Linked DNA regions of Homo sapiens: region 1 is linked to region 2. Evidence: fine-mapped expression QTL. A gene starts in region 2. The other region holds a variant in brackets. All regions are shown on one strand. Distances are from middle to middle. Region 1 overlaps RPUSD1 (RNA pseudouridine synthase domain containing 1). Region 2 holds the start of MSLN (mesothelin).

The links. PIP is the estimated chance that this variant, and not a neighbour inherited with it, causes the effect. A credible set is the group of variants that fine-mapping cannot tell apart.
Region 1: its variant is the best candidate, but not a certain one, in a credible set for the expression of MSLN in cartilage (Steinberg 2020, PIP 0.69).

The regions. Positions count from the first base shown.
Region 1 is chr16:780,425-785,781 of GRCh38, reverse strand. It overlaps RPUSD1 (RNA pseudouridine synthase domain containing 1), which reads left to right. Exons shown (of 6, transcript NM_058192.3): 6 at 1-808. It also overlaps the pseudogene MSLNL. Among named protein-coding and RNA genes, the nearest start is that of RPUSD1, 5.3 kb to the left of the region's middle. The variant G/C (reference allele first, on the strand shown) is at 2,491.
Region 2 is chr16:757,717-763,073 of GRCh38, reverse strand. MSLN (mesothelin) reads right to left here and starts at 2,340. Exons shown (of 18, transcript NM_005823.6): 1 at 2,253-2,340; 2 at 1,900-2,001; 3 at 309-402. The coding sequence starts at 393. RefSeq lists enhancers at 2,384-2,402, 2,568-3,093 and promoters at 2,384-2,402, 1,924-2,404, 1,910-3,759.

The sequences.
Region 1 (5,357 bases), 23 kb before region 2:
GGGGCGCCAGGCAGCCGTGATCACAGGTGACGACCGCACCGCGGCCGTGGGACTGATGCGGGATCCCGAGGGCCTTCCTGCCCACATGCCCCGGGAGAAACCGAGGCCCCTCCCTCCTCCTGGAACAGCTTCCGGCTCTCAAGCGTCACCCCAGGGGCGTCAGTTTTACGGACTCAAGGTCACCTCAGGAAGAGGCAGGGCCAGGTTTTGGGATAGGCTTTGCCTCCAGGATGGGCTGCTCCTGGGCCTGGTGAGCTACTGCCCCCAACCTACCCTCTAGAGGGGCTGGGAAGGGCCGTTCTGGGCTCACCTGGCCTGGGAGACCCATCTGGTCCCTGCGTCCTCTGCCCCTCACTGCTCTGTGCAGATCCTGTCGCCCTCAGCTGCCTCCTCCCGAGACCTAATGGTCCCTGCTGGGCTCGAGTCTGCAGGCCCGGCTGCGTGTGCCTTGGCCTCACTGTACCAGTGGTTCCCTCTCTGCCCGGATTCTGAGCTCAGTGTGGTGTTTGGTGCACAGGGGTTGGTCAGGGGCCATGGCCAAGGCCCTGCCACGCACGCCCATCCCTCAGATCCACTGTGAGCACCAACCTGCTGCAGTCTCTTGGGCCCCTGCTGGCAGCTCTGCCACGTCACCGCCTGCCTGGCTCCCACACAGCCATGCATTGTCACTCTGCCTCCGGGACCCCAGCTTGGGAGCTGTGGGTCTGCCAGGTCCCACCTCCTCTGTCCCCCATGCCACAACCTGGGCTCCTGGCTACAGCAGGGCTCCAGGGACTCCAAATAAATGTTCAGTGACTGGCTCCAAGGATGACCGTGAACGTGTCCGAAGTGGGGCTTCCAAGGGACAGGTCTGGCCACCCAGACCTTTCCTAGCTCTCTTCCCTGCCCTGAGGCCCCAGCAGGACCCAGGACAGACGCAGTGGTCCAGGCTCCTATCGGCCTCTCCTGCAGACAGCAAGCACCGTGCAGCTTTGGCCTGGGCACAGACCCTGGGCCGGCCCCGGACAACCCCCAGCCCCCACAACCAGAGCCATGGGAATACCCAGCTGGTCCAGCCAGGGATCTTCGTAGAGCCCAAGTCTCAGAGCTCTGTGGAAGGGGCATCTCATGGGCCAGCACTTGGTCTCAGGTCCGCCTGGCCCCTGCCTGCCACTGTCCAGCTCCGGGGCCAGCCCTGAAACCCTGGTTACGACCCCAGCGGTGACAGCAGCAGGGCCTGGACCAGAGGCAGCTGCCACCGTGCCCTCAGCCGAGATGCGGGTTCCAGACCCGGAGTCCCCACCGGGGCCCAGACCGGAGGCAGCTGCCACCGTGTCCTCAGCCGAGACGCGGGTTCCAGACCCGGAGTCCCCACCGGGGCCCGACTGGAGGCAGCTGCCACCGTGCCCTCAGCCGAGACGTGGGTTCCAGCCCCAGAGTCCCTGAGGTGAGGCCACAGGCCCTGGACTCACTGCTGCTGCTCCCATGACTCAGTTTCCTCATCTGTAAAGGAAGGGGCTGGTGCAGATCCGAAGGGACCGCATAACCCTCAAGTAGCACCAGTCGGCCACCCCAACAGAGTGCGGCAGCAAAGCCCTCCCGGCCAGCACGCCCATCACTCTCGAGGCTCCTCCCTGGCCAGCCCCGGGACGTGTCCACCCTCGGGCACCTGGCCCCGGCCTCCCCTCCCCCAGGGCTGGCTTATCTCCAGGCCTCCTCCTGGTCCTTGTCTGAATCAGCCCAAGTCAGGGCCAGGCACGCCTCCCCTCTCTGGCTGGGACAGTCTCCCCACCCTGCCCCACGGGGCCCCACCCCTCTAGACTGGGGGCTGCCGACCTCACTGCCCCAACAGCAGCTGTTGGAGCCGCTGTGTCCAGCTGGGCTGGCCCAGCTGACAGCCGGCCAAGGGGCCTTCAAGGCCTGACCTGAGCCGGACCCTCATCAACAAGCCAGGCCTGAGCGCCGTCCCTCATGGTGCCCGTGCCTCGTTGTCAGCCTAGAGCTCTCAAAGGGGCACCTGGGTTCCTGTGGGCTTGTGCAGGCCTGGGGAGCAGTCACCTACCAGTTCCCCTGCCGTCAGCCTCCAGAAGACCCAGATCGGGGGTCAAGTCTCAGCTTGGCCATGGAGCTGGCTTGTTGGGCACCCATAGCATAGCTGTGGTGCAGGGGGTGGTGGTTCCACAGCTGAACCTGAGCTGCAGGTCCTGCCAAGCAGGGGCTGAGTCTCTCCCAAGATGAGAGCTGGGGTAGGTGGGCCAGGCCAGGGCTCAGCCTGGGTCACCCAGCACCCTGTCCCAGTGAGGGGAGAAGCCTGGCAGGTGGGCTGGGAAGTCCCTCCTGTGTCTTCTCCTGCCCTGGCCTGCCTGGTGGAGCCCGACAGTGCATACTTGGGTGCTCTTGCCTGCCCACCTCTGAGCTGCGGCACCCACGGAATGGCCGCAGCCGTCACCATTCCTGGCCCCCGCATTGGGTACTCGTCTGCCTGATGTCCCCGCAGAGGCACACATGGTG[G/C]ATCTGTGTCCGTGCTCCCGGGCACACAGACCAGGAGGCCCGAGAGGCACCTGTGCACACGCAGGCACCAGCAAACACGGCAGACTCAGGTGCAGGCGCACGACATGACCCCTGGGGCACAGACGCTGCAGAGCAGGGCCCCAGTGGGTGGGGAGGGGTGTGAGCTGGGCAGCTGCCAGCCGTGAGCTCAGCCTTTGCTCTAGGGGAAGGGAGTAGGTGCCCATTGTGCCTGAGGTCCCCAGGGGCTGACGCGGTGCATCGCCTGGCACAGCCCGGGCCTCCCCCACAGGACTGCCTGGCGGGCGTCACCGTGGGAGTGGGACTGGGCGGGGCGAGGCAGTCTCATGCCGCCTGCCAGGCCAGGCATGGAGGTGAGCGGGGACCCCGGCATCCCCGCCCTGCACCGCCTCTGCACCCGGGCGCTCAGTGGTAGCGGCTGACGCACTTGGCGGGCTGGGATTGCGTCTGGATCACCTGGTCCACAACTCCCTGCCAGGAGCAGCCACCCCACAGCCTGGGCAGCACCTCCCTCCACCACACCCAGGGTTTCTGCTCAGGTGAGAAACGCTGGCGGGAGCCACCACCAGCCCACCCGCAGGGCCGGTCCCGGACCTGTGGCTGGGCCTGAACCTCTGCATTTGCCTCTGCATGGGGCAGCCTCCCTGTCTCCCTCCTGGGCCACAGTCAGGAGGCCCAGAGGTGCCCAAAAGCCATCAGGCTGGCTCCAGGAGGAGGCAGTGACCCACAGCAGTACCGGACTCCTCTAGGGTCCCTGGCCTTGCAGCTTCCATTTCCAGCATGGTTGAGGCTACCCCAGCTGCCACTGGGGGCTGGATGTCAGCGAAAGAGCCCAACAGCTGGGGCTCAAAGAGGGAAAGGGAGCTGCCAGGGCTGCCGGGTGTGGGGATGAAGCCAGGGCTGCACGAGGCTGCCTGGGGGACTCGCTGTTTGTTGGAAATCTGTTCATTGGAGACCCAGCAGCCCATGGGTCCCCTAGGCCCCGACCTGCAATAAGAAAGGCCCCAGGGTTTCACCCGGCTCCCGCTCCCTGCTCCTGCCTTTTACTGTTTATGGGATCCTTTCCCCTCGAAGGTGGGAGAGGCGCAGCTCTGGCCCCGCTGCCCTGGGTGAACCTAGACTGCACCCTCCCTCTCCACACCCCAGGGGGTGGGAGGCAGTGCGGGGCCAACCTGTGTGTCTCACCTGTGTCTCGCCTCTGTCACGCCTCTCCAGCTAGTCCTGGACCCACTGCCCTTGGCCCCAGCACCTTCCTGCCCTGGGACGTCTCAGCCAGGATGACCAGTGCACGCCGCCGCACAGACGTGGGCCCCAGAGTGGGTGAGACGAGACCTCCATGCAGAAAGGGGGCCTCCAGAGTGCCAGGCCCTCATGGCAAAGCCATCCCGTAGACATGGGAGTGCCCAGGGCCCTGGCCACCCCATTCTCCTGAGCGAGGGTCTGTCCCAAGCCAAGGAAGGAGAAGGTGGGCCCTGCCCAGCAGCAGCAGGACGGGGGTCGGGCTGCCAGGGCACTGTGAGCCCAGCCCTCCCCAGCAGGCATGGGGGTCCTGGGAGGGTGAGGCAGGGCAGGCAAGTTTGGCTAGAGGGGGCCACTCCTGGCCCAGGCAGCTGGACATGGCTTCTGGGGAAACGGTGTGGGGGTGAGTGGAGACAGCGTTCTCTCGGGCAGTCCGGCCACAGGCAGGGCTGGGCTCTGAGGCCAGGGTTGCCCAATGCCTCACCCTCCCTGAGAGGGGTGGGCCGGGCCCCAGCAGCCCAGGAGGCCGTGGTCAGATTTCTGTGTGGGCTGTGGCAACCCCTGCTTGACGCCTGCCGGAGAAGAGACTTCACCACGTGGTCTCCCCAGGGCCAGCAAGATAAGGGGGCTCCCCTGCACCCAAACCCCCTTCCTGGGCTGGGTTTCCAAAGCAGGAACATGGGCTGGGCTCCCAGTTCCTGCTGGGAGGCCCTGCCGTGACCCCCACTGCAGAGCTGAGCAGCCGGGGCCCTTGAAGGTGGCTTCTGCCCCCACAGCTCTGCTGCCTTAGGGGTCTCAGGGCTCCACTGTGAGAACACAGAGCCATGGGGCGTCTGGAGGGAGGTAGAAGGAGCTCACACACATGCACCTGCCATCTCACACATGTGCAACACAGGTGGACATGCGCACACGCTGCCAGAGTCATGCACACAACTGTCACCTACCCGTGCACACTGTCACCTACCCATGCACACAGCTTTCACCTACCCGTGCACACAGCTTTCACCTACCCGTGCACACAGCTGTCACCTCCCCGTGCACACAGCTGTCACCTACCTCTGCACACCGTCACCTCCCCATGCACACAGCTGTCACCTCCCCGTGCACATAACTGTCACCTACCCGTGCACACAGCTGTCACCTCCCTGTGCACACAACTGTCACCTCCCTGTGCACACAGCTTTCACCTACCCGTGCACACAGCTTTCACCTACCCGTGCACACAGCTGTCACCTACCCGTGCACACCGTCACCTACCCGTGCACACCGTCACCTACCCGTGCACACAGCTGTCACCTACCCGTGCACACAGCTGTCACCTACCCATGCACACTGTAACCTACCCGTGCACACCATCACCTACACGTGCACACAGCTGTCACCTACCTGTGCACACTGTCACCTACACGTGCACACTGTCACCTACACATGCGTGCCTGCACGCATCCACAGTCTCATGCCTGTGCTGTATACCCGTGCACACTGTCACCTACCCGTGCACACTGTCACCTACATGTGCACACTGTCACCTACACATGCGTGCCCGCACGCATCCACAGCCTCATGCCTGTGCTGTATACCTGTGCATACTGTCACCTACCCGTGCACAC
Region 2 (5,357 bases):
ACAGTCCCCCAGGCACAGGGGTCGGGACTCCACCAGGGAGCCCGGCCTTCCACATCTTTCCCTGAGACCCGGCTGCTTGGCCGGTCAGACCACCCATCCCACAGACATCCCCACTGTGTCCTGAGCCCCATCACTCCCTGGCTGGATCTCCAGCTCCAGTCACCTCTGGGGGCAGAGACTGCTGCTGAGACGTGGCCACCACAGGCACTCCAGGGAGAAGGCAGGGGCAGGCAAAGCCTTGCTGGGGGCCTGGCCCCCAAGGCCCCTGGGCCGTCCCCACCTCACCAGCAGCCCCATCAAGTACGCACCGAGGCTGAAGAGCAGGAACAGGAGGCTGCCGAGGGCGGGGGTCCCACAGGACCCCAACAGGGGTCGAGCCGTTGGCAAGGCCATGGTCTGTGTCTGTGGAGGGCAGTGACTCAGGATGGGACCCCCTGCTCCCACCCCACGCCTCTGTCCTGGGCCAGCCTGGGGCCACATGGGCCCAGGAGGGGCTCCCAGAGCAAACTTCTGTGGTACCTGCAGCTTGTGTCCGCACCCTGGCCCTGCCCTCCAGCCACTGAGCCCTCTGTCCCCTGGACTGGCTCCTCCTGTCCAGGGGAGGGGCTGGGTCTGAGATCCCGGTCCCCAGCCCAGACAGCCCAGGAGTCAGTTGGCGCCCACCCCTCTCCCAGAAGGGCAGGGCAGTGTGAGCAGAGCTTAGATCAAGCAACCGGGGCCGCCGCCCACTTGGGCTGGCCTGAGTCTCCCCACTCTCGCACAGGAGGACGAGCAGCCCCGTCGCCTGGATGTGGCTCCCTTCCCTCTCCCCTGCCCTCAGCTGCAGGTGCCTGGGCTTTGTGAACACCCCAGGCTCTGCCAGGCAGACAACACCCTTGAGGCAGGAGGGGCACTGCGGGCACAGAGGCCACCGCCCCTTCCCACCCAGCAGCGTCTTTTTGGGCCACTTGGCCTCTCTGAGCCCATTTTCAGGTGCAGTCCAGGTGGGGCGGGGCTGGGCCAGTGAGCAGCCTGGGGAGCCCCTTGTACTCTCTAGGGTGGGGCCTGTGGGCCACTGTGGGGTGGGGAAGTGGGTGGGGAGACCCTCCCTGAACAAGAATTGTCCTCCTGGGGTAGGGGTGGGGCTCGCAGAAGAGGGAACTGGCTTCTACACTCACCCCTTTCAGGGAGGCCACCATGGCGGAGTAGAATAGAGCTGCCTCCTGAAAACCTTGGCCCAGGCCCGGTGGGTCCACCCACAGCTCAGAAATGGGGGTCACACGCTCATGCTCAGCAGCCCCATCCACAGGCAGAGCCTGCCTGGTCGGCCCGGCCACTGGGGAATGTCGCGGGGAGGCACACAGCCTCCGGGTGACAGACTCTACTCCCCCAGGCCCCAGAGGAAGTGGGGAGGCCCCTGAGGCTCTGAACACCTTGAGAAGGTGGAAGAAAACAGACCCCCCCCACAGCCAGAAAATGGGCAGTGAGTGGGACCCCCAGCCCTTGGGGTGCGTGAAGCCAGGAGGGAAACGTGGCCATCGGATCACAGGGGACCTGGGCACTCCCCACCCCAGCTCCATGTGACCCAAGGACCTCAGCACCTGGGATGGGGGCTCCCCGAGAGCCCGGCCCTTCCTGCTCTGAGGGGCCTCTGCAGGCCATGGGGGGCCCTGGAATCTGCATCCTTTACACCTGCAGGAGAGCTGGGCTGGGGCCGTGGAGGCACCTGCACTGCCTTAGGACTGCCGCTTCCAAACAAATGGGTCTGCGTGTGCCCTGCGGGGTGAAATCTGCGTCCAGCTGAAGCCTGACCATCGCTCTGGTGCTGGAAGCCCGGCCTGGGGCGGCCCCAGTTCTCCAGATGGAAGGTGCAGATTCCATCCACACCACAACAGGAAGAGCTCAAAGGTTGTTACTTACAGATCCCAGGGAGGGAGGCACCGTGGGTCCACCGGTAGCTCTCTGTCCGCGCGTCACAGCAGACGGGAGTGGCCGGCCAGGCAGAAAGAGGAGTGCGTGGCGCTGGCAGCGCCCATGAGGAACAGGACAGCCCCTTTCAGATCGCGGGCCAATGCCCACACGTGGGCCTCTAAAGGGCGATGTGAAAGGGGAAGCCCAGCCCCCAGGCCTCTGAGGCCTTCTGCGCAGTTGGGTAGGGAGCTTTACCCCTAACGCCCGGGCAGCCCCCAGCCCTCCAGGTCCCGAGTGGCCCCTCCCAGGTCTCAGTGGGCCCTGCCCAGGGTAACTCTGATGTGCAGGGTGATTGGCCACACCTGAGCCTCCTCTGCCTCGGTTTCCTCAATTGGGAAGTGGGGGTGGAGAGCCTGGCAGCCTCCCGGGCCGTCAAAGGGAACAAATGACGGCTTTGCCCGGGGCAGCAGGGAGTGGTGGCGCCTCACGCCCCAGGAATGTGTGGGTGGAGACCCCGCACAGGAGCCTTGGACAGGCAGCGGGCCAGGCCTGGGGGAGGAGGGATGCCCAGGAAGGCAAAGCTGCCCTCGGTGGGCGAGGGTGGGAGCCCGGGCCCAGGTTTCACGGCTGCCCTGGGTGGGTGTGGGGCATGTGTAGGAGCCCGGGCCCAGGTTTCATGGCTTCCCTGGGTGGGTGTGGGGCGTGGGTGGGAGCCTGGGCCCAGGTTTCACGGGATCCCACTCTGATTCTCAGGTGCTGAAACCCAGGGAGCACTGGCCCCCCCAGTCGCAGGTCAGCAGGCTCTGGATGGTGGCCACGCAGCCCAGACAGGACTCCCGGGAGCACAAGCCTGACCCCCAGTGCAGTGTGGGCCTCGCAAGGCTGTGAGCCGTCCGTCTCAGGGCTGTGGGAGCACACAGGTCAGGGAGGCAGGACGGGGCCCAGCTCCAGGCACACGCACACCCCTTTCTCGCAGGGTCGACTGGAACAGAGCTGCCCCCGGGCGCTCTCTGGCCTGGCGAAGTGGGAGCTGTCTTCCCTACGCATCTGGGCTGGCTGCCTGCTGCTGATGGAAGAGCTGCTCCTCCTGACCTGGGGCCACAGAAGCCCCCTCCCTGCCCCTGAAACCCCTCCCAGCATGTCGTGAGCTCTTATCCCCAGTACGGAATCTGCCTCCGCTATGAACACCTGCAAAGGTTTGTGTGCTGAACGGAGGTGTGCGCGGCGGTCATCTCTGGTCTCTCCACAGAGTGGGTTTTCTATCGTGACTCGCGGTGGAATCGGACCTTCACGCACACAGAATTCAGCAAGGCTGCCAGGTGTAAGCGTCAACTTACAAATGTCAAGAAGGGATTAAGGGCCTTTTAAAAACTCCCTTCCGCAGAGAACAACTGAAAAATTCCAGACACTCTTGTAGCAAACCAGTTACCCAAGGGCTCTGGGGAGGGGACAGAAGGCAGCCGGCTTGGGCGGGAACTCACAGGTAAAGGGAGAGGCCAGCTCCGAGTGGCGTTCCCTTTGTGTCCACACAGCTTTGCTCTGAAGGAGCCGCAGGTTGGCTGCGGGGCTGTGAAGTGGCCCAGGCTGCCACGGACACCCACAACTTTCCCGGCCAAAGGCCAAAGGAAACCAAGGAAGGAGCCCAGAATACTCAGGGCCCAGAGCTCGAGGAGAGGCCTGAGCCGGAGGAGCCAAGGAGGCGCCCACGTGCCCAGCTGAGCCCTGAACTGAAGGAGCCGAGGAGGGTCCAGGAAGAGCTCGGAGGGCCCCGTAGACACGGCTGAGCCCTGAACAGGAGCCTCAGAGGGGCCCATGTGCCCGGCTAAGCTCTGAACCAGCCGACTGCAAGCTGCGGACAATGATGAAAACGCGCTGTGGCCAGCCTGGGCTCACCCTTCAGCCAGCACCGTGGGAGGCCGATGCGGGAGGGTCCGTTGAGGCCAGAAGTTCAAGACCAGCCTGGGCAACGTAGTGACACCTCATCTCTATAAAGAATCTTTAAATGAGGCCCTGTGTGGTGGCGCACGCCTGTCATCCCAGCACTTTGGTAGGCCGAGGTGGGCGGATCACCTGAGGTCAGGAGTTCGAGACCAGCCTGGCCAACATGGAGGAACCCCGTTTCTACTAAAAATATGAAAATTAACTGGGCGTGGTGGCACATGCCTGTAATCCTAGTTACTCAGGAGGCTGAGGCAGAAGAATCACTTGAACCCAGGAGGTAGGGGTTGCAGTGAGTCGAGATCACGCCACTGCACTCCAGCCTGGGCAACAGAGCAAGACCCTGTCTCAAAAAAAAAAAAAAAAAAAAAAAAAATGCCGGGCGCAGTGACTCACGCCTGTAATCCCAGCACTTTTGGAGGCCGAGGCAGGCAGATCATGAGGTCAGGAGATCGAGACCATCTTGGCTAACACGGTGAAACCCCGTCTCTACTAAAAATACAAAAAATTAGCCGGGCGTGGTGGCGGGCGCCTGTAGTCCCAGCTACTCGGGAGGCTGAGGCAGGAGAATGGCGTGAACCCGGGAGGCAGAGCTTACAGTGAGCCGAGATGGCACCACTGCACTCCAGCCTGGGCAACAGAGCGAGACTCCATCTCAAAAAAAAAAAAAAAAAAAAAAAAGCCCAGGCGTGGTGGCTCACGCCTGTAATCCCAGCACTTTGGGAGGCCGAGGTGGATCATGAGGTCAAGAGATCAAGACCATCCTGGCCAACATGATGAAACCCCGTCTCTACTGAAAAAAAAAAGAAAGAAAGAAAGAAGAAAAATAAGAATATCTGTGTGATTTTTTTTTTTTCTGAGACGGAGTCTTGCTCTGTCGCCCAGGCTGGAGTGCAGTGGCGCGATCTCCGCTCACTGCAACCTCCGCCTCCCAGGTTCATGCCATTCTCCTGCCTCGGCCTCCTGAGTAGCTGGAACTACAAGCGCCCGCCACCATGCCTGGCTTTTTTTTTTAAGTAGAGATGGAGTTTCACCGTGTTAGCTGGGATGGTCTCGATCTCCTGACCTCGTGATCCGCCCACCTCGGCCTCCCAAAGTGCTGGGATTACAGGCATGAGCCACCATGCCCGGCCATATCTATGTGTCTATGTGATTGAAAGAACGTAGATTCCTACCTCATATTATATGCAAAATTTACTCAAAGCCAACCATAGGCCTGAGTATAAAGGCTGAAACTATAAAACCATTAGAAGGAAATTCAAGAGGAAGTGTTTGTGGGCTTGGAACAGGCAAAGACCTGTTAGATGGAAGAAAGAAGGCAGAAACCATGACTGACACTGCTGCTCTTTGAATGATGCCGTGAAGAAAATAAAGAGCCAAGCCACAGAATAAGAGAAATATTTGCATGACATATACCCAGAATTGACAAGGAACATTTGCAGTTCAATGATAAGACAGACAATCCCGTAAAACCCAGGCCATATGTGCTGCAACGCGGCTGAGCCTGGAAACACGGACACGTCGTACGA